Regions from separate parts of the Homo sapiens genome. Here all the other regions are linked to region 4. The links come from fine-mapping of genetic effects on gene expression. A gene starts in region 4. Each other region holds a variant in brackets. All regions are shown on one strand. Distances are between the middles of the regions. Region 1 holds the start of LOC105378995 (a long non-coding RNA gene). Region 2 overlaps LINC03122 (long intergenic non-protein coding RNA 3122). Region 3 has its middle 42 kb from the start of LINC03122. Region 4 holds the start of LINC03122 (long intergenic non-protein coding RNA 3122).

What was found. PIP is the estimated chance that this variant, and not a neighbour inherited with it, causes the effect.
Region 1: its variant is fine-mapped to the expression of LINC03122 in substantia nigra (GTEx, PIP 0.97).
Region 2: its variant is fine-mapped to the expression of LINC03122 in hypothalamus (GTEx, PIP 0.94).
Region 3: its variant is fine-mapped to the expression of LINC03122 in blood mononuclear cells (TOPMed, PIP above 0.99).

Annotation. Positions count from the first base shown.
Region 1 is chr5:61,778,784-61,786,890 of GRCh38, forward strand. It overlaps LOC105378995 (a long non-coding RNA gene), which reads right to left and starts at 5,943. Exons shown (of 5, transcript XR_948369.1): 1 at 5,693-5,943; 2 at 2,780-3,001. The variant T/C (reference allele first, on the strand shown) is at 4,414.
Region 2 is chr5:61,671,867-61,679,973 of GRCh38, forward strand. The region is part of intron 1 of LINC03122 (long intergenic non-protein coding RNA 3122); the gene reads left to right. It overlaps LINC03152 (long intergenic non-protein coding RNA 3152), which reads right to left. Exons shown (of 8, transcript NR_109910.1): 6 at 5,757-5,825. Among named protein-coding and RNA genes, the nearest start is that of LINC03152, 23 kb to the right of the region's middle. RefSeq lists an enhancer at 1,095-1,595. The variant G/A (reference allele first, on the strand shown) is at 4,085.
Region 3 is chr5:61,591,809-61,599,915 of GRCh38, forward strand. No RefSeq gene overlaps it. Among named protein-coding and RNA genes, the nearest start is that of LINC03122, 42 kb to the right of the region's middle. The variant T/C (reference allele first, on the strand shown) is at 3,880.
Region 4 is chr5:61,633,274-61,641,380 of GRCh38, forward strand. LINC03122 (long intergenic non-protein coding RNA 3122) reads left to right here and starts at 4,508. Exons shown (of 2, transcript NR_126525.1): 1 at 4,508-4,573.

The DNA.
Region 1 (8,107 bases), 150 kb after region 4:
CAACAACAGAAAACACTGATCACCTCTTCTCAAGTGGGGAAAAAAAGAATTGTAAGCAGATTCAAGATACCAGGCTGGAATTGGGTCCTAGGTTGATGGATTCTGCAGTCTCTGGCAGCCTGGATTGCTTGGATTGATGGACACACTCCTGAAGCCAAGTTCAAAGAGAGTGTGCCTATTTATCCTTTGTGATCTGCTGAATTGGATGAAATGAAAATATTCAGGGATTTTTTTTTTCTCTGTGGCAAGGGAGAATTCCTTGGCTGCAGGAATACTGTCTGCAAGTTGAGGAAATTTGGGTGTCAGGAAGAGGCAGGTTTAAATAGTCTGACTTTAGCCATAGGTTTGCCCTGTGGGCGATAAGAGTTGCATATGGGAAAATTGCTAAGCTTTTGCACCCAGGTAGTGTTGTATTTCAACAAAATTTAAGAGTCTTCTAGTGTGGGTGGCATCACTTTGCACAACCCTGTTGCTGTTTTCTGGGCAGCTGTGGCTGCACCAGATAAGTAGCATTCCTGGTCCCTGCTCTGTTACATGAAGGAATTCGGGGAGATGCCCCCAGCACACTCTTCTGTATGTGTAGGATGAATCTGGGGGCTGGAGCAGAAATAGGGGCTGACTGTTACATACTTAAAATGAGGTAGAGAAAATTGCATTAACCAGAATTCCTCTGAAAGAGAGCCCTGAATATATCTGGATAAAGAAATACTTCAGCAAGTCATTTGGGGTGGAGGGTGAAACCCAAGAGTATATTCAAGTTTAAAAAGTTATTATTAAACTGCTCTGCATGAGGTAAGGAGAGGAATTTGTCACACTCTTAAAAGGGAGAGGAAAGAAAGAGAGTGAGGGGAAATGGCGGTGGGAGGCGGCAAGAGAGAGACCAGCAAGTGGTAAAATCGTGTACTCTGTGTGAGGTGAGCCACTCTACATGGTCCTGCCCTCCCATTCTTAAATAAAGTGACAAAGCTCACAAAATGCTGGGTGTGAATGGAGGTTTGTGGAACCCCCTGAAGGAGCTAAGGTTAGTGTCTGGCTGCTGTAGATGAAATAGAGGTAGCATACATGATTGCAAGCATCAGAGAGGAGGACCCCATAGGGATATTGGCCCTGGACAGTTGCAGAAACCACAGCAAGAACTTTGGACATTAACGGGTGATGGAACTGGCTGTGAATCAAGTTTATCTTGTTATCCCAAAGGTCGGGGTGGGAGGCAGCTGAATTCCAGGTAATATGTGGATAACCTTGAAGCAACCAGAATATCTAAAGATGTCTGCTGCTTCTGTGTTTTCCATGAGAAATGTTATCTAAAGTATAATGAAATCTTATAGAATCAAATATAATGACTACTTATAGAAACCAAGATATTATTTAAACAGAAAGCAAGTATAATTTCCTGTTTAGTTAGGCTGACCACTATCCAGGTAAACAGACAGCATCCAAGGCATTATGGGAGAAGCAATTCCATCCAGGCCCACTCCATCGGATAGAGAGTTTGTTTCTGGTATTTAGGGCAATTTCCAAGTAAAAGTAAATAACCCTATAGGATGTTCTAAATGATGCACTCTCTGCAATGAAACAATGTTTTTTCCCCAAAATAAATAGTCTACTAACAACTAAATGTAATAATAATCTTGTTTGGATCTTGTTTCACATTATCAACTATATACGTATATATACATATATATTTTTTTTTGAGAGGAGGGAAATTTGAATTGGGAATAAAACAAGCAAGAAATTATTGTCAACTTTGATAGGCATGATGATGGCATCATGGTTATGTAAGAGAGTGTTTATATTTTAAAAGATGCATACTTAAATACCTTTATTTAAGAGATGCAGGGTAAGATGACACAATACCCAAGATTAGCTTTAAAACACTTCGGCAAGAGAGAGAGAGAAAAAAAAGAGAGAGAAAATGGATTCAGCAAGAGGATCAAAGCCACAACAATTGTTGAATCTGGTGGATGAACATAAGGGGGCTTACTGTACTATTCTGTCTACTTTGTGCATATCTGGAATTTTCACTAACAAATTTAAAAAACAGTTCAAACAAAATAAAATTGGGCCCTCACAGTTTTCAGTGCCTTGAATATCCCAAGGGAGCTAACTTTCACCTCCTTTTACTCTTCCTTATATCTAAGGCTTAGGAGACGGTCATCATCTGTCTACCACAGATACATCACCTGTTTTCAAGTTAAAAAAAAATTTGGAAGGTGTTGTGGGATGAACTTGTCCCTCCAAAATCCGTATGTTGCAGTCTCAACCCCTAACACCTCAGAATGTGACTATATTTGGAGATACTGTCTTTAAAGAGGTAATTAAGATAAAATGAGGTCACATGGCTGGGGGCTAATTCATGTGACTGTATTTGAGTACAGGGTCTTCAGAAAGGTGATTAAGTTAAACCGAGGCTATTAAGATGGACCCTAATCCAATACGACTGGTGTCCTTTTAAGGAGGAGAGATGCCAGGGCACGTGTACACAGAGGGATGACTGTATGAAGAGGGAGCAAGAGGATGGCCGTCTGCCAGCCAAAGAAAGAGGCCTCAGCAGAGGAAACAAAACCAACCCTGCCGGCGCCTTGGTCTTGGACTCCCAGCCTCCAGAACTGTGAAAAAAATGCATTCCTGTTGATTAAGCCACCGGTCTATGGTATTTTTTTTATGGCAGCCCTTGTGAACTAGTTCTGAAGGGAATTGAACTGATAATGGATTTGCCTCAGTGGAGCTGCCTGAATGAATTCCAGGCTATTCTCTCTTCTCCCAAAAAGAAACTCACAAAAAGAAGAGGATTCCATCTTCTTTTCTCCCTTCCTTTCTTTGCTCCTGCTACAATCTCCTTCACATTGCCCGCATTCTGGTTCTGGTGCTGTTACATCTGCCAAAATACCAGGAAAAACACCACCTCCTGATTCGAGCTTTTGAATCTTCTGAGCCTACTCTGGTTTTTCAGTCCACGTCCTGATCTTTCCTTGTCTTCTTTGGACACAAATAATGAACCCTTGAAAAGGATAAAAAAAAGTTTTAAAAAGTGAACCATTCATGGAATTAGAATATAGTGGTAGCCTATAATTCTACTTTTCATCCCTCTTGAAAGAGAAACATTGTCCTAATACTTAAAGTATTTATTATATCTTAAAGGAAGGCTCTTATTTCTGGTTCAGAGATTCAATGTGGCAGTTATAATTATGTTCTGGATACAACATTGTTAAAAATTTGGATTTTCAAGCTAAAAATGATTTTTAAGTATGTAATTACCTATTAATTCCCCTGAAATTGTGATTTGCCATTTTTTTGTCATAACTCATCTGAAAAAAACTATTTTTAAAGAGAAACTCTGAACTGACACACGAGTGCCTGGGTCTTGGCATTGCTGACTCTGCAACACATGGCGATTTCAGCAGGAACAATAAACTGAAGTCATAACAATGGATAATATTTTAATATAATGGAACATAATCGTTAACTTTGCTCAACAGGAAGGAAATGAATTTTCCTCATTGTACACGAGAAAAGCAGGTATAAGAAACTTTCAAAGGATGTTCTACCCAAACAGAATGGGTTTAAGAACCGTCACAACAATAGCCTTATAGCATCTGGTGTCAGCAAACTGAACAAATGGTGCTTCTGAGGAAAGAATGTGGCTCAGTGTCTCTCAGAAATATATGTAAATGAACTTGAAATTTTAGAGGATGATTAATCCTACCCAGTAAAGTACCTTTCCCACGGGTCTTTCTCAGATCTCAGGTAAATCGTTCTTTTTATCACATTTGTCCACCCCACCCACTCAAAGTGAATATCCTATTAAACCTCCACAAACCTGTTTCAAATTAAAATGGTGCATGGTAATATTAAAGTGTGCATTTATTAAATATTCTGTGTAAGTCATAAGAAATTCAAAATATTTTTATAAGACACCTGCGACTGTGGTGTAAGTTGCTTTTTAGAAGTAATGAATCTTCAAAATTCTCTTTGATACAATTTTGATTTTGTCCTGGTACTTCCTGCTACTGTCCTTCATTGATTCTTACCTTGGCCCACTTCTGGTCATCTCTATTTCTTTTTCATTTTTCTGTCTTTATATTTCTCAGCTTCCCCAATACAAACAACTGTCTAGAATTGATACATCCCAGAATTCTCATCCAAACATTTACATCCAAGTCAGACCAAAAGAGAACAGAGACCAGATTCATTAATTCAGTGATCCAACATCAGTTAAGTAACTAAAAAGAAACCAGACCAATTTTTAACCCACTGGGGCAAAGTGACCAGTTTCTTTGATTTTTCTTTTTTTCAGTTCAGCGTATTTGGAGATCATGGACATGCAGCCACAGTTCTCTGAGGGTCACCACATAGACCTCACACAGTTTGTTTTATCGGTCTATAAGCTGGTGCATATTTCACAGTCATTCA[T/C]TACTATAGAAATGGAAATATGCTACCTGTGCTCCTCCCCCACCATTATACAAGAGCCTGATTACTTGATGTGGATCAAATCACCACCCACTCCCAACGTAACTACTGCAAGTGCTGTAGTCTCATGTGACTGAGCATAAGCCCCTGAGCCGGTGTATGCTCCTTTCCTGAACTGTCAGCCCCCTACAGTGGCTATTATGACAACAGCCCTTGCTGAACCTTGTTTGTAGCTGGCAGGACTGTCTGCAACTTGCATCATTAATAAAAACTTCTTCACACCTCTACAGGTTGTCATCACAGATCAACATTTTCCCACCTACTTTACTCTTCTCCCCTCGGAAAGAAATTTCTTCTGGACACACTTGTACTCTAAGTCCTTGTGAAGCTTTGGCAAACTCTGCAATGGGCCCCCACCTTTCCTCTCCTCAGCCCTTTCCCTCCTGGGGCAGAAAGGACAGAGAAAGCAGGAGGTGGACTCCCCAAGCCACATTCCTGCACTCCTGCCAGCCTGGCTGGTGGTAGCGGTGCTTGGCTTCCCTCCAGCCTAGGGTACTCACTGCCTGGCAATAGAGCAATTTTTGAGGGGCACAGGGTTTTGTGACCAAGAGACAAAAATAAAATTAATCACAACCTTACAAATGGCAAAAAAGAAAAACTGACAGAAATAAACAAACAAACAAAACTCTGGGTTTTTAAAAATGGAAGTCTGGCTTCAGTCTTGAATATTAGGATTCTGATGAATTATGTATGAAATGACATAGTTCATGGAATAGATTTAATATGCCATATTCTTCTTTCCCCTTACCCACCGCTTCCCCTCCCCCATTCCAACAAGGCCTTGAGCTTTATGATGAAAGGTGAAATTGGGTCGGGGTTGGAGGGAACTGAGAAAGAACAGAGAAGCCAATTAAAATCAAAATAAAAATGTCTTCTTATCCTTTCCTCCTCACTTCACTTGACAATTATCTTGCACATATGAAATAGGTCTTCACTTGACCCTTCTCTAACTAACAAGGGCATCATGAGACACCAGAACTTATTTTTTTCTCTATTTGAAGCCTTAATTTTTTTCATTAGTATACTAAATACAGAGAGGTCCTGAGATATAGAAAATGCCAAAAAGCAGGCCGAGCAACTGATGGGTCATGAAGTAAAGGGAGGAACTGAAGTAATTAACTCCACGAAGACAGAGACCATGTTCTTGAAATAATCAGTAAAAGGGACCGTCTCCCAAACCCAGTGTAGATACTCAGTAATAAGAACAGCAAGAAGGACAAACCTAACATGTTGGCTGGTGATGTTCATTCATGCCTCACTTCCGTTCACAGAACTCCCTGGCAGGCATCCATAGTACCATATGCTTTGGAGAAGTGGGAATGCTGATTGTTGTCGTTATGGGGAATTGAGTCTCATTGCTTCATGAGATTCCGGGTGGCAGAAATGTTCTGAGAAAGAACGTGTCCCAATAGGTGTGCCATGGGAATCTTAGCACAGGATAGAACTTCATAGAGGACCTCCTCTAAACTCTCAATTATAAAGGTGAGGAAATGGAGGTCCAGGGAGGCAAAAATGGAGGCTCAGGGAGCTTGCCCAGCGGTCGAAATAACAATGTCGAGCTTAGCGGGAGTGATGGAATTAGGATCTGGAACTCCCGATTCTCACACTCTTTAGGCTGACTCACCACTTTCAAGCTTCAGGCTCCAGGCTCCATACTGTGGCTTTTTTTTATTTTTTAAATATATTTTAGGGGTACAAGTGCAGGTTTCTTTGATGCATATATTGTGTCATGAAGCCTGGCCTTTTAGTGTGTTCATCCCCTGAATAGTGAAGATTGTATCCAATAGGTCATTTTTCAACCCTCACCCTCCTCCTACCGCCCCACCTCTTGGAGTCTCGAACGTCTATTATTCCACTCTGCATATCCATGTATACTTATTGTTTAGCTCCCGCTTATAAGTGAGAACATGCAGTATTTGGCTTTCTGTTTCTGTGTTATTTCCTTGAAGATAATGGCTTCAGTTCCATCCATGTTGCTGCGAAAGACATAATTTCATTCTTTGTTTTTAATGGCTGAGTAGTATTCCATGATGTATACATACCACACGTTCTTTATCCAGTCTTCTATTGATGGACATTTAGGTTGATTCCATACCTTTGCTATTGTAAATAGAACTGCAATAAATATGCGAGTGCAGGTATCTTTTTGATATAATGATTTCTTTTCCTTTGGGTAGATAGCCAGTAGTGAAGTTGCTGAATTGAAGGGCAGTTAGTACTATTTTTAGTTCTTTGAGGACTATCCATACTGTTTTTCATAAAAGTTGTACTAATTTACTTTCCCACTAACAGTATATAAGCGTTCCCCTTTCTCCGTATCCTTGCCAACATCTGTTGTTTTTAGACGTTTTAATAATAGCCATTCTGACTGGTGTGAGATGGTATCTTATTGTGGTTTTGATTTGCATTTCTCTGATAATTAGTGATGCTGAGCACATAATACCTGTGTCTAGTCAGCCATCTTCATCCCTCCCCCATCCTGTGACTTTAATGGCAACCCTGTAGATGCTGATTCTGGTGTCTCCAATATTTTTAGTCATTGAGATATCTAGAATCTTTTTGCTCTCTTAATATCAGACAAATAAAACACAAAGGAAGAAAAAGTATAAAGAAAAGAATGTGAACTTTGGAGTCAAAATAAATTGCAGCTCTTTATAGACAATAGTTTAAACTCTTTGAACCTCAGTTTTCTAATCTGTAAACTGGGAATAATCACTATCGTAATCATAAGGTGTAGAGATGCATGTTTATAGCAGCACAATTCGCAATTGCAAAAATACGGAACCAGCCCAAATGCCCATCAATCAAAGAGTGGATAAAGAAAATGTGGTATATAAATGTATATACCATGGAATACTACTCAGTCATGAAACGGAATGAAATAATGGCATTTGCAGCAACCTTGATGGAATTGGAGACTATTATTCTAAATGAAGTAACTCAGAAATGGAAAACCAAACATCATGTGTTCTCACTTATAAGTGGGAGCTACACTTTGAGGATGCAAAGGTATAAGAATGATACGATGGACTTTGGAGGACTTGGGGAAATGGTGGGACGGAGTGAGGGATAAAAGACTACACATTGGGTACAATGTACGTTGCTCAAGCGATGGGTGCACCAAAATCTCAGAAATCACCTCTAAAGAACTTATTCATGTAATCAAACACCACCTGTTCCCCAAAAGCCTGTTGAAATAAAAAAATTAGAAAGAAAAGAAAAATATTGTGTGTAGAGCACTAAGCATACCAAATAACTAATGGTAGCTGAGCAGGAAATCTCAGAGCAAACCCTGTATCTGAGAGGCTGAGTCAGTAGGACAGAGACCTGAGTCCTCCTCTCACAAGAAAGAGCCCTGTCTCACTGAGGTCCCTTCAACTGCTATCACACCCTGAGCACTTAACATTCTCAGACTGAAGGCACTTCTGTGTGAACACGTGTATTGGAACCATAATGTAACGAGATGATTTACCAAAAAACACCCCAGAGAATCTGTCTCTGAAGTGGCATCTACAGAGAAAGAAAGCGACTTTGTAACATTAAATTGATGCACAGAGTCCTGGAAAAATAAAAAGAGAGAAATAAGCCTGGGACTAACAAAAAATTAAAAGAAAAAAATGTTTGGGGAAGAACTGTT
Region 2 (8,107 bases), 39 kb after region 4:
AGTGGCACAATCTTGGCTCACTGCAACCTCTGCCTTCTGAGTTCAAGCAATTCTCCTGCCTCAGCCTCCCAAGTAGCTGGGATTACAGGCAGCCACCACCACGCCCAGCTAAATTTTTGGATTTTTAGTAGAGAAAGGGTTTCACCATGTTGGCCAGGCTGGTTTCAAACTCCTGACCTCAAGTGATCCACCCGCCTTGGCCTCCCAAAGTGCTAGGATTACAGGTGTTAGCCACCATGCCTGGCCAGTTTTTTTTTTTTTTGTTTTTTAATGACTGTAAAATGAAAGCATAATTGGAAAAAATTCAATGAATTTAAATTGAATAAAGTTAAAATAACCAAGGAAACCAAAACTGTTAATACTACTACAGAAAGTCTTTTGATCATGTAAACATTATTTAAGTAAGGAGTTGATCACCATAGTTATTTTAACAGAGATAATTTAATAAAGGGGATTATTAGGCTAGTATTAGGACTGAAAAGGCAAAAAAGGAACCTTGAGGCATCTCAGTGACGGTAACTGCAGGGAGCAGCTACCACCCCAAGGGCTGAGGAAACAAAGCAAGAGACTGGGGTTAATAGAACCTAGATGCTTAGGGGAAGGGCCCAGCAAAGCTGGAACACAGGTCTCTGGTGGAGGGTGTTCCCAGGCTGATGCGGACTCTCAGCAGCTTGAGGAGGGATCACATAGAGCTGGGACTCAGAGCTCTTAAGAGGGGACACTGCCCAACTGGTTTTGTACCCTTGGAATTTGGAGAAGAGACTTGGCAGAGCTGGGACCCAGAATGTAGAGTGGGGCTTCCTCCCAGGTGGTCCTGAACTGTAAGCAACCCACTAAACACTGCAGCACTATGGATAAAATGGAAAAAAATGCCTGCAGGATGTGCCTTGGAACCTGGGGCTTGTGGTCTTTTGTTGGATCCAACCAGGATGAAGCATGTTTTGATATGGGCAGGTAAAAAAGGGGCATGAAGTTAGTGAATCAGAGCCTTTGCAAGTGTGTACATTTACGTGTGTCTTTTCTCTGTGTTCGGCATTTTCCTTTGCATGATTTTATTCTCATTCTTTCATGCTGAAAATGCTTGCGTGTGTGTGTGTGTGTGTGTGTGTGAGAGAGAGAGAGAGAGAGAGAGAGAATATCATAGTGAGTGCAAGCCAGTGGTGGTCATAAAATGGTAATCTTAGCAGGTGTGTACAGCTGGCCCTGCCCAGCGATCTGCAGCAGATTTCATTTCCTCATAGCTCATCTGGCTGGTTGATCTCCTTTTGCCCTTTCCTGCTGTGAGAATTCATGGCCAGCCTGAAGCCAACCTCCTGGCTTCTGTGGAGTGCTGACTCCTCCACTTCCCTGCTTAGTCACTCTGAGGTGGAACAGGATCCCACTTGCTAAGCTAGTGGCTGCTTCTGCTGAATGCCAATCTGAAGGGGCGATCAACCCCTTTGAACTCCCTCTGGCTATTGAGTCTGCCATTGTTCAGACCCTGCAGTGTGCATGGACTGGTGACAAAGCCCGGGTGAGGAAGCAAGAGATGACAACCGGAGGGGAACAGGGGAGGGCAGGAAGGCCTTTGACTTGGCCTGGACACCTGGCGATGCTTTATTGCCCCAGACAGACTCTCCTGCTCCAAGATCCAGCCCAGGGGCTGTGAAGGTCACTCGGCGCTCGCCGCCCATGGGAAGGAAGTGTTTCCTTGGGCAGCAGAGCCAGGCTCCTTAATGACTGCTTCAGCTGAGCATTTCTACTTGGAAAGGAGAGCAAATGTTCCTTTGCCCTTGCCACCCTGCTTAGTTGCAGCTTAGGCCTCTCAAGAGGGAACATAAATATTAGGGAAGTTGGGTCACCTACCAGTGGTTTGGGCTAAGAAAACATTTTTTTCTTCTCAGGAAAATGAATAAAACCACATGATGGAAAATGCTAGAAATAGAGGAAAGGGAACAACAGCTTTAAAAAATCTGAGTAACCTGTAATAATCACTAATAGCATTTGAAGGTGTTTTTACCCACCCCTCCCCTGTGCAAATAGTTCATTCATTCATTCATTCTCTAAGTGTCAGTTGAGTGCCTACCATTGCCACTTGCTGGAGATAGGACCCTGAACAAAATAGATCAAAAGTCTAGCTCCTAGGAGCTTCTATTCTTGGTAGGGGAAGAGGGGCACATCTTGCATTCAGTTTCTTTTCCTGTTGTCATTTGTCAGTCAATCTCAGCAGCACTTCCCTTGTCATTGCATTGTCTTCATACCCATTATTCTGATGATTGCTTGTTTTTCCGAGTGAATGGCTCAGACTCCACTTAACCATGTCACTACTGTCCAGTGGTTTCCATCTGCACAGTTTTAAATAATGCTGTGGTTAGTATATTTGTGCAGGCAGATTTTAAAAAATAGATTTTTGGGGTAATTTCCTCTCTGGCTATATCTTACACAGTATCAGGTAGGACTCTTGGTTACAAACAACAGACCCCAAATCTGGTTAACTTAGGCAGAAAGGGAATTTGTTGGAAGGCTATCTATCCAGCAGCCTATGGAATTATCAGAAGGCTGGAGAACCAAGCTCAGAAAAGCATCAGGAACGAGGGTCAGGGGGCAAAAGTACAGCACAGGTCCACGCCCTGTAGAGTCCCTGAGACCTGCTGCAGGCCCCTCCTCACTACCTCCTACTCTCCTTTCAGCTCTTCCAGCTTTCCAAGGAGAAATCTCTCTCCTCCTGAAGCCTCCGTCTTGCATCCTGGAATCTTGAGTTCAGGGTGGAGCACTGGTGGCCGGGTGAAGGTCAGCAGCCTGCTGTTCTGTTTCCAGGGAGTGAGAGGAGGTGTCCTTCCTGGCTCTCCAGAGAGGAAGTGGCTGCTGCCCCTCACCTCAACTTAGGGAGGCTGCTTGGACCCTCAGTAGGAAAGAGGAGAAATATCCACTACAAACACGTTCCTTTTCTTCTTATATATGTGTTTGTTGTGTGTGGGATGACAGAGGGTAGGGACACGGTTAAAGACACATCGAACATCACCTGCCAGAGAGGGGTGTAAACACTTCTCTGCATTGCTAGTAGGGTCCAGGTATTCTCAGCACCTCCAGCAGCCTGGGGGACTCAGCCTCCAGGACTGGAGAAAAGAGGGTGAAATTCACATTGATGATTGCTTTTTGATAGGTAAGAAAACTGGGGCTTAAAAAGGATGTGTGACTTACAGCGGACTATGTTGCCAGCAAACCTGGGCTGCGGGGACTTGAGTCCAGGTCTTCTGAAACACCCGAGGGTTAGTTGGACAAGTATTACTTCCCTGCTCTGGGCTGGTGGCCTATAAGGGGTGCCTGGAGCAATCCTCTTGCTGGGACAAAAGCCCTTTCAACAAAGGGGCCTTTGTAACAAGCCTTTCTTTGTCTGGCCACCAGGCTGTTCCCTGGAGTAATTAAAGCCTGTAGTCCTTAGATATGAGGCTGGCTAACACTGCTTGACAGGAATACAGCAATGTGAGTTTGGGTGCCAATGCTAGATTGGAAATGCATGTCTTCCTGCTCCCAGACACCTAGGCATGAACCACATGGCTAGATGGCCCTGCCCCTCCTCCCTGGCCACTCTGCGTAGAGGAGGACAGCACCCACTGGTCCTACAGGATGGGGGCTAGTGGCACTCTCCTGGGCAGTGCCAGGCAAGTAGACTGTCATGCAGCTTTACTGCTGTGGCCGCATCTCTGGGACCTGCTAGTGGACATCTGGCTTACTACTACTGCTCAGAGGAGAAAGGTCACAGCCTTCCAAGGGTCCTTGGATATCTGGCACTGTGCACCTGCATCTTGTCCACAGTGTCCCCCCTGGGGTGGGGAGGTGCCTCTTTCCTTTGTCTAGGGAGATGGTCTCCCCTGGACTCCCTTGGGGTCTCAGGACACAGCATTAAAATTGGCTTGTGTGTTTAGTCATCTTCTGTGAGGCTGGACCTTTATGCTAAAGGTCCCTCAACTAGTGGAGAAAAGACAAGCTTTACTCTCCCCAGAACTAGGAAGTTAACCTTTTATGAGAGTTGTACTGCTGGGGACCGCGAAGGACACCGGAAATAAACTCCGTCTCTGCTCTCAGAGAACTTTAGATGTCTCTC[G/A]GTGCGGCCACCACTTGGAGGGGAAAAGAGAAACTTCTCTCATTAAAGGCAGTGCCCTGGCTCAGGGCCTTCTCAGGCTGAGAGCTCTGTGGGGCTTTCACTCACCCTGTCCCCTGCAGACACCTGAGGTGCAGCTCACCTGCCAGCGAACGAAGGCATTCCAGGTATAGGTTAAAGTGGAATTTCGGCATTGGCAGAGTTAACATTCATAAATTCAACAACTTGTGTGTGCCCTCAAGGGCCCGTGGCAGGAGACGAGGTTTAATTGTGCTGAGGCACACATTTCCATCACATGGGGTGGGTGGGTCTCTTCACTACTGAGAACTGGGTACCAGGGTTTCAGCAGTTTTGGGCTCTTGGTTCCTCACCACCAAAGGCAGTTTGTGGGGGATCTTTATGTTTCAGCAGTATTTGAGAATCTGGGGAGTCATGAGCGGCTCAGGCTGGGTCTCCTGGTATGCAGGAGGTATCTGGTGGGGAGGGTGCTGGGGTCTGGGAATCCCCCCTCGCCATGCCACTTCCCCTCAAGTCCCCAACCCTCTGGAGCCCTCAGGCTTGGGATCAGGCTTTTTCAGGCTCAGCCCCACCTGCCAACCAGGGGCGGGTGCACCCACCCTCAAGATGCACACAGCTGCATTGTCTGCAGATAATTTAAAACCAATAATAAAATCGACTGTGAGTCAGTTTGCTTTTTCTTATCCCTAGGCCAGTAATTCTAAACAATGTCAGTGATAAAATAATCCTCCCACAAATCTTTTGTTTGTCCATTTTCTAAACAATTGCTGTGGTGACTATTGAATTTTAATTCTATACACTCATATACATCTGTGTGTATGTGTGTGTGTATACATATATACCCATATATATACACACATACATATATATGCTTCAAATTAGCATAGTTAATTACTTATCCTTTTACTAATATTATAGTCTATGTGAAAGTTACTTAGGAGAACTTCCAGTAAGAAAGAACAGTTCAAGATGGTTCGAACTGGCTTCAGGCACAGTTTGTGTCTCCAGCCCCTGTTGTACTAAGTATGCCTGCATTTAAATAATCGATAAAGGATGATAGCACAGTAATTGCAAAGCCAAGACACAAAACCTGAGTTAATTTAATTCTGTCATTCTGCACAACCACTTGGAATTTTAATTTGTGTTTAAAGTTTAGGAAATGCAAATTTTAGTTCATACACGAGATATTTGACTGGATTTGAATAATATCTTGAAAATTAAAATTTATTCTGTTTAAATTATTGTTTTAAAGCTAATGAATGAATCATGAGAGTAATAATAATTAATGATTATTACATGATTCTCACTGAAAATAATTTTGTCCCATAGAGGAGGGTACTAAAAAATGATCAGTTTGGGGAGTCAGATATGTTATCTTGGCCACTGTCCATGGTGATGCAGATGACAGAAATTGTTCCAGTTTATTGAAACAGGAGAGCATTAATAATCAGGTATTAATTGGCCTATGAACATTTTGGAAGTGCTGAACAAGCAGATTCTGGTTTGAGCTTTCAGAAACAATTCCAGTTCCCCAGATGATGCTCTGATATGATTGAGGGAAACTGCATCCCCCACTGTCCGTGGCAGAGCCCACCATTCTGCCATGATCTGAGCTAGCAAAGTAAAGGCCTCGTGCTGTGCCTCCCATCCCACTGACCTGGCTCTCAGTTGAGGTCTCATGCAAGTGGCTCTGATTGGTGGAACCCAATCCCATCAGGAACCCTACCTGCAAAGGAGGAAGAGAAAATTAGTTTTTCATTTTCTGGTGTCTACAGTATAGACTGGTTCCCTGAGGAAGTTAGGAATGGAGGCTGAGCCAGCTGGCCTACAGCATCCTTCACATCTACCCAACCGAGTTTCTACACTTGACCTTTTGGTCTCTAGATGGGGAAGAACCTCCCCTGTCTGGCAGCCAGGTTCTGCCTCATGCTGGCTTCTGGAGAGAATGACTGTCTCTGTAGTGAAGTGTGTCCAGCCCAGCTATTCTTTTCTTTTCTTTTCTTTTCTTTTTTTTGACAGGGTCTCACTCTGTTGCCCAGGCTGGAGTGCAGTGGTGCAATCTCAGCTCACTGCAGCCTTGACCTCCCAGGCTCAAGCGATCCTCCCACCTCAGCCTCCCAAGTAGCTGGCACCACAGGTGCATACCACCACATCTGGCTATTTTTTTTTGTATTTTTTGTAGAGACGGTGTTTCATCATATTGCCTAGGCTGTTCTCAAACTTCTGAGCTCAAGCAATCTACCTGCCTTGGTCTCCTAAAGTGCTGGGCATAACAAGCATGAGCCACCATGCCCAGCCTCAGCTCAGCCATTCTTATGCTGCCTCTTACCATACCCCCACCTTCCCACACCCCATGGAACTTCTCTGCCTAGGCTCTCCAACTTGGAATCTTCTGCTGGTGCATTGTGAGTAATAGCTCCAAATCTTCTCTCCCTCAGCACACAACCATCTCTTGAGTAAAGGCTGCTTCAAAACTCCCACAGCTTTTCATAATGCCACCCCTAAACTCTGCCCCCAACTAAAGTGCATGAATCTTTATCATTATTCTTTAATAGTAACTTTTTGGGGGATTCTTCTCAATACATATTTGCAGACTAAATATAACTCTTGTCCTCAGGATTTTTCACCATCATTCTCATAACATTAAAAAGATTCTAATTTGCATCTAAACTTGGGTCCCTAAATCTCAGCCCTCCTGTCCCTTGTAGGGACAGTGGGTGTTTGTGGTGATGTTGGGACTGAGGAGTAGGTTCCACAATGACTAGGCTAGAGGGTGACTCTTCAGAGAGAGGCAGGATGCAACCTTGGCAGGGAAGTGCCAGGTGAGGCCCAGGGAGGTTTGAGCCCTAAGTCTGTCCTGTGGCCCAGGACACAGGGCCCACATCAAAGACTGAAGCTGCTTACAAGGTAGGAGGAAAGAACATGCAATGACCTGAAACTGAAGAGGCTGGATTTCTTTCTGTCAGAGGCTCTTAATAGCTGTGTGACCATAGACCAGTCACTTCACCTCTCTAGGGAAGAAGGTTACTTCCAATGAAGATGGTTATTTACTTGTGAAGTAGTGGGACTAGGAAAATGGGTGGCACAGAAGGAAGGAGGAAGCAGGGTTTATGACGCTGGCATATCTCTCTCTGGACTGCCTCTGGAGGAAAGCCCTGAGACAGCACAGATTCCCCGCATGGAAGGCTATGCCTTGCTCTACCCCACCCTGCCCTCCGCCACCAACAGGGCACTCAGAGGAAATACATCCAGAATCCTGAGCTCCAACATGGAGCAAAACCAAGGATGGAAGTGGGCCTGGCAATATCTGGGCTAGAAGTCATATTTCCTCATTTTCTTTTGAACATGGAACCCTTTTCCCGAAAGGCTTTGTTCTCTTCAAAGCACAGTTTCCCAGTGTCTGTCCTGCAGGGACACTTTCATCACACACACACACACACACACACACACGTATCTATAAAATTGATTTAATTTCTTCCTGGGTTCTCATTTACCAAAATAACAAACCAACTAGGAAGTCTCTCTAAAGGAGAACATGGTCAAGATCAGACTCTTCTCTAAAGATACAGCTAATTCCAGCCAGCACATTAACATTCTAAAGTTAAAAGTGCATTGTGAAATGTAAATCGATGTGACATTGTCAAACAAAATGACCTGTGGGCTTGGGAGGTTGGTGCTTGTAGGAAGAGGCCGAAGTGTGCATCTTAATCTTGATTTCCTTTGGGAATATTTCCTCCACTGTGTTCCTGACTCTGATTATGTTCTTGTGCGATCAAAATAGCTCTAGTCTCCAGGGCTGGACAGTTCCTTTTTCTTTCTTTCTTTTCTATTCTTTCTCTCTCTCACACTCTTTTTTTCCCCACAGGACAAATTATTGTTGTTTTGATCAGTGACAACTGTTTGATTTTTTAGCTATTAGTATATACATGTGCACAAAATCCCATCCTATTAGGAAGAAAAGGATTGGATTTAAAGTCCTGCTTGTTGTATAGATTATTTAATGCACAG
Region 3 (8,107 bases), 41 kb before region 4:
TTAATGATGACCCTTCACATTTGTGGAGCACTTTATGGTTTACAAGGTGCTTTTCTATAATCTTAATGATGAATTTCACATGGGAGTCACTTGATTTACAGGTGAGGTGTTCCAGTGATTTTATTGCAAACTTCCCCCAATTTAATGCACATGCGCATGCCTGGCATGTGCTGTGGGGCTGCTCAGCAGGGCTGGTAGCTGACCGTTGGCTGGAAGTTCAACGGGGCTGATGGCCCAGAATGTCTGCAGGTGGCCTCCCCATGTGGCTTGGGCTTCTCAGCACATGGCAACTGGGTCCTGAGAGGGGGCATGAGAGAGTGAGTTTCAAGAGACAGGGGTGGAAGTTTGAGATGACGTATGATCTATCCATGGCTGATAGTGAGTGTCATCTCCTTGGCATTCTGTCAGTCAAGCAAGTCACAAAGCCTGGCTGAGATTTTAGTGGAAGAAATAAACTGCAAGAAGAGTAGTGAATTGGGGGCCATCTTTAACACAGTAGGTATTATGAGCCCTATTTGACATATTTTATACCAAATTAACTTGCTTGAAGCAATCTAGTGAGCAAGTGCCAGAACTGAATTGAATTGGAACATAGGTTTGCTGACTCAAAACACAGTATTCTTATACCAGGTCCCTCTTATCTTAGCCAGGTCCCTCTCCTGGCTATCTTGTTTGGCTGTAATTATCTCCCATGGCCCTACTCAAGACAAACAGCATACTTAATCCATACCAGAAGGTCTGCCATTCTAGGTCTCAAATGAAAAAAGAGGGGCAGCCCCTCCTCAGACCCTGAGAGGCTTTGACCCCAATTGCCCCTTTAAGTAGCACCCGTTCTATCTCCATGCCTTCTGGGATACTCCATTGCCAGCCACAGTCCCACATGCTTGAGACAGTAGAGTGAGGGACAGAACAGAAGAAAATGGTGAAGGATGCTGGGAAACTCCTTCTTGCTGGGAACCTTGTCCTTGGAAGGGGTTGGGGTGTAGAGGATGGGCATCTACAGGGTGTTGCTGAAAAACTGTCAGGGGGCACTTCATGTTGGTGCCGTGGTCAATGGCCAGAAGTCCCCTCTTATCAATGGCCAGATGCCAACTCATTGATGATACAGGACAGGGGCTGCCATCTTGAATCTCTTGGGCAATGCTTGGCTGAGCCTTCCCCTGATGCCTTTAGGATTGCATTCATCCACTGAGTGCAGGCTTTGGGGCCCATGAGTGGCCCAGGGGTGAGGCAGAGGTGGCCTCTGGCTGCTTGGTTCTGCCTTCTCCACTGTTGTCTCATCACTCCCATGTTGCTCCTTTCTTCTTCCTCTGAGCCCCTTGAGTGGTCTCCCTCCCGCTTTGTCCCATCACTCTAAAGTTAAGATTTGAGGAATGGCTGAATGAGTCAGTGTTCTCCAGAGAAACAACCAACAGGATGTACACACAGAAAAAGATTTATTCTAAGGAATTGGCTCAAATGATTATTAATGGCAAGCCCCAATATCTGTAGGGTAAGTTAGCAGGCTAGAGACCTGGGAGAGCTGATGGTGTAGTTCCAAACCAAGTTGGAGGCCCTGAAAACCAGGAGAGCCAATGTTTCCATTTCAGTCTGAAGGCAGGAACAATTCTCCCTTACTCAGAGGAGAGTCAGCCTTTTTGTTCTATTCAGGCACTCAACTGATTGGTGGAGTGCCCCCCAATTCCCCACGTTGGGGAGGACACTCTGCTTTACTCAGTCTGCAGATTCAAATGTTAGTCTTATGCAGAAGCACCCTCATAGACACACCTAGAACTGTGCTTGGCCAAATGTCTGGACACACTGTGGCCCAGTCAAGTTGACACATAAAGTTCAGTATCACAATAGTCACCATGTGCATCTTTGCTGGAAGTGGAGCCTGGGGTGGAGAAATGTTCCTATAAAGCACAAGGAGAAAACCAAGGCCCCTGGGCTGGCAGGTGAACCATCAGCACTGGTTGCTGTAAAATTACAAGGGACTCTCCAAATCTTTCCCCCAGTGATTCTATTTTGCCTTCAGCACAAAATCACGTCTTTGCCTCCCAAAACGTCTCATTGCCTCTTCTGTGTTCAGCTTGTCTCTGACCACTTTTACTGCCCTGCTCCACCATCCTTCTATACCCACCTACTCTCAGCTCCTGACTGTGCTGGGTGTATTCACACCTCCAGGCCTTTGAATGTGCTGTTCTCTCTGCCTGGAACACCCTTACCTACCTTCTCCACCTGGCAACCTGTATTTGTCTTTCAAGATTTAGCTTAAGTATTATTAAATGAGTTAATAATTATAATGCATCCAGAACCTGGCACAGGCACTGTTTAAATGTTTGAAACTATGAGTATTGGTATTCAGATTTATATCACCTTATTCATTCATTCAGTTAACAAATATGTGTCAGGTGCTATACTAGGTGCTGAGATACAGGAGTCAAGGTGTACATGGTTCTATGGAGCATGTATTTCAAGAGAGGAGACAGACAAAAATCCAAGTAAAGAGACAAATACATAAAATACATTAAAACTGTGGCAATATGAAGAAAGAAACCAACAAGCAATATATACAGAAAATAATGAAAGTGGCTCTCCTTTGATAGGTCGTTGAGGATGATCTGATTAACACATTTGGGCCAAGACATGACAGATGAGAAGGAAAAAGTCACACCCATAAGGATCGGGGGACAGTTATCTAGAGAGAGAAATGGCAGGGCAGAGGCCCTGAGTGTAGCCTGGGTGTTTGAAGAACTGATGAAAGGCATAAGGAACCAGAACAGAACATGCGGGTGAAAGGACAAGGACAAGGTTGGAGAAAGCTGGGTCTGCCTTCTCTAACTTCCCAGGTGTGCCTTTACCACTGACTTCACAGGGGCTGTCAGCCTGGCTTTGCACTGGCCTGGAGACTCCCTGAGGGCACAGACTGTCTGTCTCAGAACTGAGAGCAGGCTTGGCAACTAGAAGACACTCAGTCAATTTTGCTAAAGGACTTAACACAGTCTTTGACTTTTAGCTATGCCAGGTGTGCTCCCCAAGGAAACTGAGCCCTGGAGGATGGAGACTCTGTCTACACGCCTCTTCATCTCTGCATCTCTGGCTCCCAGCCTGAGCCGCGACATAGTAGATACTCATTAACACCTGCTGTTCGCATGAGTAAATTTTACTTTATTTGGCTCCTTCATGGCTTCCAGAGCAGAGCTGGGCAGAGTTGATGACCAACAAGTACTTTCTATATGATGAATGGTCCACAGTGAGTTGGGCTTAAGCTTTACTTCTGGAGGAGAATGTGACAGAACGGAACAGGAGAGAAGGCCAAGGGCATGAAGGATGGCAAGGTTTCCCATGAAGGTAGATGGCAGCTTCATATTTATGAAAAGTTATGCACTGAGCTGTCACCCCAACTATGCAGATAACATTTATGCTTCTGTTTTCAGGACTCGTCTGTTATGCTTTTCAATGATTAGCCATTCTTATACTTGGGCTAGCTCTGCCCCCTCCCTCTCCCCATTTTATTCATGTATGTGTGTATCTGATTCTAAGTGAATGGAGCGTAAGTTTCCCTTTGAGGATTTTTTTTTCTTTTGGAATTATGTAGTTTTATAAGTATATTGTCTTTACTTCTGCATTAAACTAGTTTACTAAACTGTTTCTGGAAAACAAAACCACAACTTTGGTTTGTTTCACAGTTCATTTAAACAACAGCATTTGTTGCTCCCATTTAAGCAAAAAGGGAATATTTAGTCTCTTTTTTAGGCTGGCAGCTCAGCAAATTACAGAAGGATGGTTTGCTGTGGTTTTGGGTTTCTCTTTAAGTTCCTGATTGAGGCACAGATGTTGGAAAATGGTGGGGAGGGGGGTCCCTAAATATGGGGGGAGTGGTAGGAGGTTTCTGAA[T/C]GGCAGGAAGCAGGCTGCTTGGCTTGAAGGACAGCAGAGGAGGAGACCTAAAGGGAATCAACAGAAGCAGCAAAATTCTGTGGCCCTTCATGGCAACACAAAAGCTTCAGGGTCAAGAGGCAGAGAAAGCATTTTTAAAAATATGATCTGTGAGTATAATGACTGTAAGTTAGCTGTTTGAAACTTGAGATGGTTTAGGGCTATATTGTTATTTATTTATTTCTCCATATTTTTCCAGGAAGAATTTTGAAATATTTAGCTGCTCATCACCTGCTGAGGAACTTTAAAGAATCGATGTGTGGTCTAACTCCAAGGTCCTGATGCCCTTGGTCTGTGGTGTCATTTGGACATCAGGATTTTTAAAAGCTCCTCAGATGATTTTGAAGTGCAGGCAATTTCAAGGTCACTGATTTAAGTGACATATAAAACCAGATACAATGCAAAAAAGGCAAAATAGAATCAGTAATAAATGGATGAAGAAATTAAGACAGTGGAGAAATGCAGGTAGAAAAGAGAAGTGGAAGCCAGCGGTGAGGTGATAATATCGAGTTTTAGGTCCATATGATGAATGAGAAGAAGGTTCTCAGGAGAAGTCTCACAGTCTCTGGTCCTGAGACCATAGAGAAAGTTATCTGGTTATTCACCATAAAAAGTGAATTGTGTACAGTTTAGCAAAGATCTTTAAGGATAGAAGTCTACCACCTTCAGTTCTGACAGCATGAAGCTCTCCCAGGTGCATAATGGACTTTGAGTTTTTAAATCAATTGGGTACACAAAAGAAGGTGCTTTGACATATGCTGGCCATGCTGTGAAAATCTCAGGGGAAAGTAGGGCTTTAGATACTGACCCGGATTTGAGCAGCTAACAACCTTCTTTACCAAACTTGCAGCTTGGGATAATCATGTTCCAAGATTTAAAGATGGAATATAGTGTGTTAGTGAGGAATTTGACTTCCTGTGTACCACTTACCTATTATGTGATCCTGGCCATGATAGTTAACATTTCTGAGTCTCAGTTATTTAATTTCTAAAGTGGATATAATCATGGTAACTATGATAATAACATTATTTTGATGTTTAAGGGAGATAAACCATGTAAATAATATGGAATAATCTCAGCATGTAGAAAATGTCCAGAAATGCTACCTATTATGAATACTGTCATCTTCCCTCACTGATCTGGCTAAACTCAGGTTTTCTCATACAGGATTTTCTCAAAGCAAAGAGTAATTAAAATGTTATTTAAATTTCATACAATCCTAACTGGACTCCCCTGGTTTATTCAGGTGGCCTGGGGTGAAACCTGGACATTGGTTTGTTAAAAAACAAAAAAACTAAAAACAAAACTCTCCAGATGATTCTGAAGTGCAGCGCAGGCTGAGAAGCAGTCTTGGCATCTGATTTTATTTTAGCTGCTCTCCTAATAGCTTCCAGCTGCCCCTTCAGCAATCTAGTCTTCAGGCTTATCTGAGACCCACTTCACAACTGCTCAGATTCTAGACAACTGCCTTTTGCTTTCACAGTTTTTGTTTTTCTTGTCCAAGGTAAACATGGATTATTACTTTTATTTAATTGTTTTTTTAATTATCATTTTTTTCTAATTATAAGAATCCATGTTAACTTTGGTTCCCTACCCAGAGATAAATACTGCAACGAGTATGTTACATTTTCATCTAATCTTTGGTTTGCACCAATGTTGTAAAAATGCAAGTTTTAAAATTGCAGAATTGATTTTGAAATCTGCTTTTTTTGCTTAACTTTTTATCAGAAGCAAAGTCTCATATGCTAAGGATTTTTGAAAGCATAATGATTTTTTCTTGTTCATGATTCTGACGTCTCTCATTGTATTTTACCATTTCTTTATTATCAGTTGTATTAGCTCCCTAGGGCTGCTGTAACAAAGCACCACAGACTGGGTAGCTTAAAGCCACAGAAATTTATTCCCACTGTCCTGGAGGCTGGAAGTCCAAAATCAAGGTGTAGGCAGGCTTGGTTCCTTCCAGAAGCTCTGAGGGAGAATCTGTTCCATGCTGCTCTCTTAGCTTCTGACAGTGCCTGACAATCTTTGGTTCCTTGACTTGTAGAAACATCACTGTAATATCTGTTTCTGTCTTCCTATGGTGTTCTCTCTGTTTCCTGCTGTGTTTCTATGTCCAAATTTCCTTCTTCTTATAAGGACACCAGTCACTGGATTAGGATTCACTTTAATATAGTATGACCTCATCTTAACTTGATGACATCTGTAAAGACTGTTTCTAAAGAAGGCCACATTCACAGGTTCTAGGGGTTAGGACTTGAACATATTGTTTCAGGGGACATAATTTAATCCAAGGGCATCAGCCAACTATTATGTCCACCCATCTTTTTAAGGAACCAGAAAAGTTTTAAAGCTTCTTGTTATTTCTATGTGTCAGCTCTCTATAATCTCCCATCCAGCTGCGAGTTCAGACAGGTGCTGAAAAAGCCAGGCCAAGGACAAAAATGGAGGGGAGGTCAATTTCTGTCCTCTCCAGACACCCACCTTCCTTGGGCAAGCAGGGAGAGGCAAGCTCTGTGGGGGTGGCCCTAGGGAAGTGCAGGAGGGGACAGATAAGGAAGGGATGAAAGCCACAGGTGGTGGCGGGAGCAGGGCTGAGGGCTTCCTGCAGCTGCTCAGCCACCTGGCTAGACAGTTGTTCTCCCTATCGGGGAGCTATGTAAGGCAAGGACTGCTTGACTTATCACAGCCTTGCTTAGGATGCCAAAATGCCTGGTCAAACCTGTCAATTCACTTCAGCAACTGTTCTCAGGGCTGGGGAGAGTGGGATTGGAGGTGTAGAATCACCAAACTGGTTGTTTATAGTGACTGCCTTCTTTAGACAAGAATTGACCCAAGTGTACCAAATGTTACTGATTCAGCTGGGATGGTTTAGTGCAGGGGTCACTTACAACAGCCTGCAGCCCAAATCTGGTCTGCTGCCTGCTTTGTACAGGGAGCTAAGAAAGATTTTTTTACACATGAACATTTGCAATTATTTGGTCATAGGGAACACTAACTTTGAACCCCAAATAAGCAAAATGTTATCCCCACAAATGAATTTCATGTTTCTCATTATTAGACCTGTATTATAAAAAAATCATACTCAATGATTATTATCATATTTTGAATTTCATCAATAAAATTTTGTGAGAATTGGTTTTCTATCTTGTCAGGTAAGTACCTAAATTATAGCTTCAATTTTACTTCTTGGCTTGCAAGTCTACAATTTAATCCCTGGTCTAGTCAGGTAGCCTCAAACACCAACAACACACACCAGAGAACGCTGAAAGGCTCTTAGAAACACAGATTGCTGGGCCCCAGCCCTGGGGTTTCTGATTCAGTAAGTCTGGGGTGGGACCCAGGAATGTCCATTTCTAGCAAGTTTCTAGATGCTGTGGATGCTGCTGGTTGGGAGCCACATTTTGAGAACCTCTGGTTTAGTCAATCGATCAGTTAACAAACATTGCTCTAAGAAGCAACATCTCGTAGTGTTCACAAGACTAGATGCGAGAATCAGAACGGCATCATTTCTCGATTCTGCCACTAACTAACTCTGTGATCTTGGGCATGTTATTTATGTTTCCTGAGCCTTCTCGTTTCCTCGTTTGTAAAATGGGGATAATGCAAGTTGCCTACCTCACAAGGGTTGTAAAGATTTAAATGAAATCAAGCTTGTAAAGCTGTTCACACACATTGGCTAGTTTTCAAACCCCTGCCCTCAGACAAACTTACAATTTGGGGCTGTGGAAATGAGACTAACTTTAGTGAACAGTACCGAGTGCTGAGGGCTGTGAACAGGAAGCTCAGAGGAACAGTCCTGCAGAGCTTCCTGTAGGAAGTGAGGGATGAGCTGAGCATATGAGAGGGATGGGAAAGCAAGTGGGACAATTTGTGAGACTTGGAGATGGAAATGAGATTGGCATGCTTTTTGGACAGAGGATTTCAGACTGCCCGGTGGGTAGGAAGAGCTGCCAAGTGGTATGGGAGGCAGAGGAATAGTTGTGCCAGCTTCTGGAGGTCCAGTGAGAGTTTCACGGTGCAGATGCAGTGTGTGTGGGCAAGACTTTGGAGTCCTAAAAACTGCTCTTGGGATTTCATTAAAACTTGGGAGGTTGGGGAAGCTGAAATGCCCTATTTCTCAAACCCCAGCTCCACTTCTTGGGGCTGCTCAGTGGGCGGGCCTCATCCCCATGTCTCCATTCTGTTTACC
Region 4 (8,107 bases):
CCTTTGGTTCTTCTCTCTTTTCTCTCTTTGGTTTGGCCATTTCACTGTTTATTAGCAGCTCCACCGAGGGTGGGAAATAGAAATGGACCTCAAATGAGGCAGGGTAACATCTGTGAGTAGGTCTGCTTAGAAGCTTGATGAGGGGGAACAGAGATTTTAATTGTAATTGCAGAAATTATAGAATTCGCTTCACTGTGCTGTCTAGGCCCACTTTTATATGGCAAATCCCAGCCTTATAACAAGAACAGACCACTCTCCCTACCCATAGTTCAACAATTGGCAGCAATGATTCAGTGGAAAAATTGGAACTTTAAAAATGCTTTATTCTTTCACTCAAGTATACTTATTGCTTTATATGCTTCTTATTCGCATGGTCATCTGGTAAACCTGGTTGTGAAATGGGGACAGAAATTTATCACTGCATGTACGTAGGAACATGGGCAGGTGTGACTTTCATGTTTAAGGAAGTTTTTGTGGTCTACTCTTCTAGTTAGTTATAATATATTATATAACAAAACATATCTCCTGTTCCTGTCACTTGGTATAATAAATATGTTGGTGAAATTTCTTGCAGAGTTTGATTACTCAGTCAAAACCTAAGTATCCTGTTGGGAGAAGAACACTCATTTTAGTGGCACTGTTCTATTCTTTGGATGAATTGAATAGTTACTAATCCAGCCACAGAAGAAAGACACAGGTAATTGCAATTGAGCAAACATACAGAACCCCACAAAAAAAAAGACTCACGAGAAGTGTAAAATTTCCCATCAAACATCCATCCATCTCTATTTTCTCCATTCCTTAGAATAGTCATTGTAGCCATAGGAAATAACTCGGGACCAGGTCTACACTAGGAGGAAAAATGTCATTCCTCATTCAAGCACTCTGGAAATGAGTTTAAAAAGACACAGTCTGCCCATGGTCAATGTGAGGTCAAAAACTCTAGTAGCCAATTTGAATTTTCTTTTAAGAAAATGTAACACACCACCTACTACCCCGCTTTTTACTGTGTAACACCACTAGAGTTCTTTAGGTTGTCCGAGGGTAGACAGGGATGTTGATTGGTCAATGTTTTAAATGTAACTTGTTTAAATTAACAGCAACTATTTTCTCTCATTTATCTATATCACCAATACCATGAGGCCTCACCCGGGGCCACTGTTGGAAATCAGGTGTTACAATGCAACTGGTGGTTATGGTTTTCATGTGGTCAGGATCCCTTAGACTGGTCGCTGCATGAAGCTCCATGCCTCTTGCTCACTGCTGTTTCTTGGGTGAATAGCACAGTGCTTGGTTATATGTAGGCATGTGAATTGGTGGTCTGGGTTTAAACCATGTTAGGCAACAAATGCTTTTCAATATATGAAATTTTTAGAGCTGGAAATACCTTTGAGAGAATAGAGGTCACTATACATTTTCTGTCTAGCAGCAATTCTCCCAATTTTCCTTCCACACAGAATTGTGATTTTGTTCTGTTTTCTTCCGCTTTTGTACTCCCAGGAGAGGCTGAAACATCACCTCTTGAGGGTCTCCTTTCTGGTGATTTATTCAGATATTGGCACATGTGACTCAATAATGGCCAATACTATGTGAAGGGACATCTTCTGGGGAGTCTTCCTCCTTTTCTTCCGGATTCTTTGTGTCTGAATGTGATGCCTGGAGATGCAACAGCAGTCTCACTACCAGCACGAGGATGAAGCTGATACCCAGGTATGGCGAGAGAGAGAGAAAGATAGAAAGAACCCAGGTTCTTGATGACGTTGTTGAGCCACCCAATCAGTCAACCCCTAAGCTTCCCTGCTGCTCTACTTTCTGTTATACAGGATAGGACGTTTCCTTAAATGTTTAAACCACTTTGAATCAGGGTTTCTGTTGCCTCATGGCCCAAAGCATCTGAAGCGATGGAGAGAATTTTAAGTCCAATTTCTCATTTCACAGAAGATGTAACAGAGTGTGCTCAATGTTATGTTGCAGGTGACAGCAGAACACAGGAATAGAGAGGCTGAATCTTCTGCTTTAGAGCCATTTTTAGTCAGATGCTGCCCCTCTTACAATTTACTTAATTATAAATTAAAGATGGTTTAAGAGTGTATCTCTCAAGTCACTGTCCTTGTATTTGACAAAATTTCCTGGCCAGGGTTAAAGTCTGGAATTCTAATCCAAATTTTCCTCATTTGGACATGCTGAATCAAACTGGCCACTACAGAGACAAAGAGTATGCTTGTTGACTTTGAAAAACTAAAAACGCTTTGTTCCTAATGACTAGGGAGCAGTGACCTGGGAGACTTGATCTGTTTGGTAACTGTGGGCGAGAAAGACGAAATATATCTCTTTGGGTCAAGACTTAGCATTTGTAAAGTAAGGAAGACCACAGGATGTTATTCAAAGCCTTTGCCAAGGCTTTGGTTGGAAGATTTAATGGAATCCACAGGCAGAGAATAGGGTGAGGGTAGGAGGTGGGGATACAGGTTAGGAAGGTTGGTTTATCCTTTCTGTTCCCAGGGGCATTTCTTCTATCAGGTCATTCCCTCAGCTGCAAGGCCTCCTGTTTGCCTCTAATGCTACTTCCAATCTGTCCATGCTGCAGGGCCCAGGTTATACTATATTGCCTCTATCAAGTCTTCCCGGATCACTTTAGCATGCACCAGTAACTCATTTTCAGAACTCACTCATTTCCTGAACTCTTTACTCATTCATTAAACATGTCATGTTACAGAATATTTCTCTTCTGGTATTTCACTCATTTTGCTCCTAAATTTTATCTTGAGGAAGCAGATCAGAAAAAAAGAAACGACATAGACTTTAAGGGCACATTGACTTCACTTGAATCCTGCTCTAGGGCCCCTGCCTTGCAGAACTCCAGGGGCCAGTTAGATAGCATGCAGTCCTGACTGGTTCTACCACTCTGGAGCAACTGTCTATGACCACCTCAAATCCATTGTGGAATGCAAATGGGGCATACTGTATTAGTTTCTATTGCTGTTCCAACAAATGACTACAAACTCAGTGGCTTAAAATAACACAAATGTATAACTGCTATAGTTTAATATCCCCTCCAAAACTTAGGTTGAAATTTAGTTGCCATTGTAACAATGTTGAAACATGGTCTTACAGGAGGTGATTAGGTCATGAGGGCTCTGCCCTCATGAATGGATCAAGGCTGTTAATCACAGGAGTGTGTTAGTTATCAAAGGAGTGGGCTCCACATAGAAGAATGAAGTTCTGGTTCCCTTCCTCTCTCTCTCTCGCATGCTCTCTTGTCAGGTAATGCCTTCTGCATGTTATGACACAGCAAGAAGGCCCTCACCAGATGCAGCCCCTTGATCTTGCACTTCCCAGCCTCCAGATCCATAAGACAAATAAACTTCTGTTATTTATAAGTTACCTAGCCTGTGGTATTCTGTTACAGCAGCAGAAAATGGACCAAGATATCTTACAGTTTTGGAGGCCAGAAGTTCACAGTGGGTTATCAGGGCAGGGCGTCTTCAGGAGGCTTGGGGTGGAGGGGGAGGAATCTGTTTTCTTGCCTTTTCCAGCTTCTAGAGGGTGCATGCATTCCTTGACTCATGACCCGACATCACTCCAATTTCTGTTTCCATTGTCACATCCCTGTCATTCTCACTCTTATCTTCCTATCTACCCCCTTATTAAAGACCATGGCAATTACACTGGGCCCACTCAGAAAGTCGATAGTAACATCCCCACTGCAAAACCTTTCATCACCTCTTCAAAGCCCCTTTTGCCATTTGAGGTAACCTATTCACAGCCTTCAGAATTTTTGAAGGAGGGGAGGCATCATTCTGCCTGCTATATACATAGTCTTTGGATCTCAGTTTCCACATCTGTAAAATGGAGAACTACTGTCTTCCCCACAGGGCTATTGAGATGATTGAATGAAGTAATTTCTGCTTATGAATTCCCAGCTCTGTGCCTGCCATGGAGGCAGGCAATTCTGATCCATGTTCTCTTCTGAGTGGGTTGTCAGCTGGAGGCCTTCTACTTCTTTCTAATCCATTAGCTTCTTGCTAGTGCTGCGTCCCCAGGAGGAAATCAGTAAATGCAAGAAATAATTACCTTGACAATGCCTTGCACATAGTAAGTACCCTAAAATAATTCATTGAATTGTTTGTTATTTTGGTGTTAATGGATGGGGATCATCTGATTAAATGTTATTATTTATTAGATCTAAAATATAAATTTGGATTCTTCTGTTGCACTTTTACCTAATTACTCTAAACACCAGTGGGAGAGAGGAATTAGTCACAATACAACTTAAAGAAAAAAATATCTTGCTGTCACTGACTTCTCTCCTTGGTCTGAAAACTTTCTGATTTTGTAGGATGCCACTGACTGCTCTTTCTGCAACTGAAAAATCTCTCAAAGGGCCCTGTCCAGTTAGGTCACACAAAGCCAGGCTGATTATTTAGAGAGAACACAATGCTCCCTCACATGGGGCACAGAGAGGAAGGAATTTTTTTTTTAAGCCAATTCCAGTCCCTGGAGCTGCAAACTGCCCTCAGGGCAAAGAAGCCTGCAGAATAATTGGGAGGAGTCTGGCAGGAAGGAAGCCAAGGTAAGTTAAGCTGCATTTCTGTCTATAGCCAGGGTCTCCATGCCACTTTTTAAACATCCCCTTCTGGGATAAACCTGTATGTCAAGATAAACAATTAAATAATATGCAAGGGCCAAATCAGGAAAACTGCAGCTTCAGCCCTAGAAAACAATGCCAAGAAACACCAGCCTGTCTGCCGCTGCTAAGTCGAGGAGATGGGTTCCCATGATTCCGTAAGAGAACTGGGTCAGGGAGGAGACACTGTCTGTTTAGAATATGCTTCAGGCCCCTAAACTTGGTCGGTTTATGCTTTTTCAGGTTAATAAAGTGGAAAATAACTTTACCTCATCCCTCTATCAAAGCATAGTGCGGCTGCCCCAGAGACCCCTAATACAGCCAGGGATGATGTGTTTGGAAAATGGGGCAAGAGAGGGTCCAAAGATGAGACCCCAAAACTGTGAGGGGGAGGTTGTGTGAGGAGGACAGACCAGAGCTGGAGGGGGACTGTGAGAAGAGGAGTCTGGTTGCTGCCGTCTCTGAAGGGTCTTCCTAGGCTCCCACACCATCATGTCTTGGCCAGCCAAGGCCAAGTGGTTGTGTAAACTTAGGATGGTCATAGAATCCTGAACTACTAGCACATGGGGGTTGAGCTTGTCTGAGGATCTTTTTGAGGAAATGGGGGAAGTATTATTCATGTAATGTGTGACCAGAGTATAGAAATCATGATCCCAGCAGATGGCATGAACGGACACTGAATAGTCCGAATGTCTCATCTCTCTGGACAGAGCAGGCTGGTGGGATCTGGGCAGTCGGGCTGGCTGAGGAGGCATATTTCAGAGTCCAGAGCGAATCCCAGCAGTAATGCCTGGGAACAAAGCCAACTGGTGCCCAGGGCAAGCAGCCCAGTTCTGGGGTCAGGCTACCAAGGTTGTACCAGGCAAGAGAAGAAGGGTGAGCAGGGGAATATTCAAGAGCATCCAAGAATGCAGGGAGCTAATGAGCATGGGAGTGCAGAACTGAGGTCAGAAGGCGTGGCCAATGGAAACTCCCAGCAGCCCTGTGCAGGGGCTCTGCGGATACCTGCTAGCTCTTGGGGCTTAAGCACGCAGTTCGGGACTGGCAGCTCAAAAATGTCTTGAGCAGATTGGCCCCTCAGATAAAGTGGGACACACAGTCTTTTTTTTTTTTTTTTTTTTTTTGAGACGGAGTCTCGCTCTGTCGCCCAGCCTGGAGTGCAGTGGCGCGATCTCTGCTCACTGCAAGCTCCGCCTCCCGGGTTCACGCTATTCTCCTGCCTCAGCCTCCCGAGTAGCTGGGACTACAGGCGCCCGCCACCATGCCCGGCTAATTTTTTTGTATTTGTAGTAGAGACAGGGTTTCACCATGTTAGCCAGGATGGTCTTGATCTCCTGACCTCGAGATCAGCCCTCCTCGGCCTCCCAAAGTGCTGGGATTACAGGCTTGAGCCCGGTTGGGACACGCAGTCTTTAAGAAGTACTTAGGAAGGGCAGTCAGGCTAAGCAGTGGGCTGTACTTTGGGACCCTTTTGCCACAGAACAGAGGGCAGCCTCTGAGTCTGGCCGTGTGTCGTAATTCCTGTGTTGGAACAGCCCCACCCTAATGAGGGCATTTAGATATTTACTTCCATCTACACTCTCCTTGGGTAGGGCGGCAGCAGAAATAACTGGCTTTGAGGCCTCCACCTTGCAGGGTCCCCTTTTTCACTACTAACGCTACCTCTCAGGGCATCCCAAATTCATGGGAATCCCATTCTGAGAAGCCCCAGTATAGGTCTGGATGTTGGATAAGAACCAAGGGCGGTGTGATGCTTATACACTGGGACAGAGTAGGCCTGCCTGATTTAGCAAATAAAACCACAAGATGCTCAGTTAAATTTGAATTTCCAAAAAGCAAAGAGTAAATTTTTTAGTACATGTCTATCCCCAACACTGCAGGGACATACTTATATTGCAAATGATTTGTTCTTTGTAATGAAATTCAAGTTTAACTGGGAATCCTGTATTTTGCAGGCCACCGTATTACAGAGGCCCATATGGAACCAGCTGGTCTGAGACAAGCCCAGGTTCTGGGCCAAAGCAAAACAGGCAGGTGTTTGCTCAACCTCTGCTAAAGGTCTATTTTTAAGGCTAGATGCTGAATTAGGAGAAGAAGCTTATGAATTGAATAAAATACTATTTGCCATCAAAACCCCTTTGAATTTTAGCTAGTAATTCACCCATAAAGTGCCACCCACCAGGGAGCCTCATACGGTTTCATAAATACATATGAGAGCTGCTGTGGAGAGAGATGGAGCCCGACGCAGGCACCGGACACAACATCCCACAGCTTCCCCATGGCTTTCAGAAAGCTTGCAGATATTTCTCTCTTCTGTTCTGAACTCTCCACAGAGAAATCTGTCAAGGGAGAAAGCAATGACTTTGCTCTCACTGGGCCAGAAATTCCATGGCTGAAATGACCCAGGGGTAGCAGGCGGGTTTGACAATCTGTCAGTTTCTGGATAGTGTTACTCGTCAGTCACTCATTTTTGCTAAATTGCAGAAACTCTTTTCTTTAAATGAAACTTTATTTGCTCATGATGCAGGTTAAGCCCAGTTTCTGGCATGTGTCCAGGGAATTGGGTGTGCCACCCTGTCCACTTGGTCATGGGGAAACCGTTAAGTCAGCCTTCAGTCTGGACATCTCTGCTCAAGGCTTTAGTTAATTTTTCTTCCCATCTGAGACTTAACCGCTGGGACTGTTTTACATATGAAGATAAGAAAACAACCGAAACTTGATTTTGCTCTATGGAGATAAAAATAAGGTAGCATTTTATTCAAGAAGAATGTGTGTAATAACAGTAATCTGAAAATAATGATATCTATAAGGTCTTTGGCAAAGCCACCCAGGAAAAGAAAAACAATAGATGTGAAAGCTTCAGTGAGTCATAACACCACCTTTCAGCATCAAAATGCCCTGGAATCAGATTCAGATAAACTGGTTTCATCAGCTCTAGACTCAGCTGTATGCGTCCCTTTTTATTCCTTGTGCCGATTGCACATTCTCCAGATAATGGCAAGGTATTGGCTCTCCTTCAAAACACTCAATTGTGCAGCAGAGGAAAGAAAAGGATTCCTTGTAAGCTTTTTCATGTCTAAACACAAAAATAGCTCTCTTCCTGGGCCTGCCCAGTGGGCTTCCTTTCCCTCTGGACATCTACAGAGTACTGCTGACTGGACTAGTGTTCATCAAAGGTGGTCTGTGGACCACGTGTATTCGAATAGTTTAAAAGCTTATTTAAAATGCAGATTTCTGGGACTCACTGGAGACCTAGTGAATCTGATCTCCTAGGTAGAGCCAAGGACTGTGCATTTTTAACGGCTCCACACCCCAAGGATTCTAAGGCATCCTAGGGTTTAGGGGCCACTGGGTTTGTCCAGCCATACAGCCCTCACCTTATCCTGCTGCCTGCGTTGTCACTTGGCTTCCTACATTTGAGTGTCTCTTCTTCCCAGTGCAATTCTAAGCACAAGGGATGCGTTTGAAATTCTTTCTTTG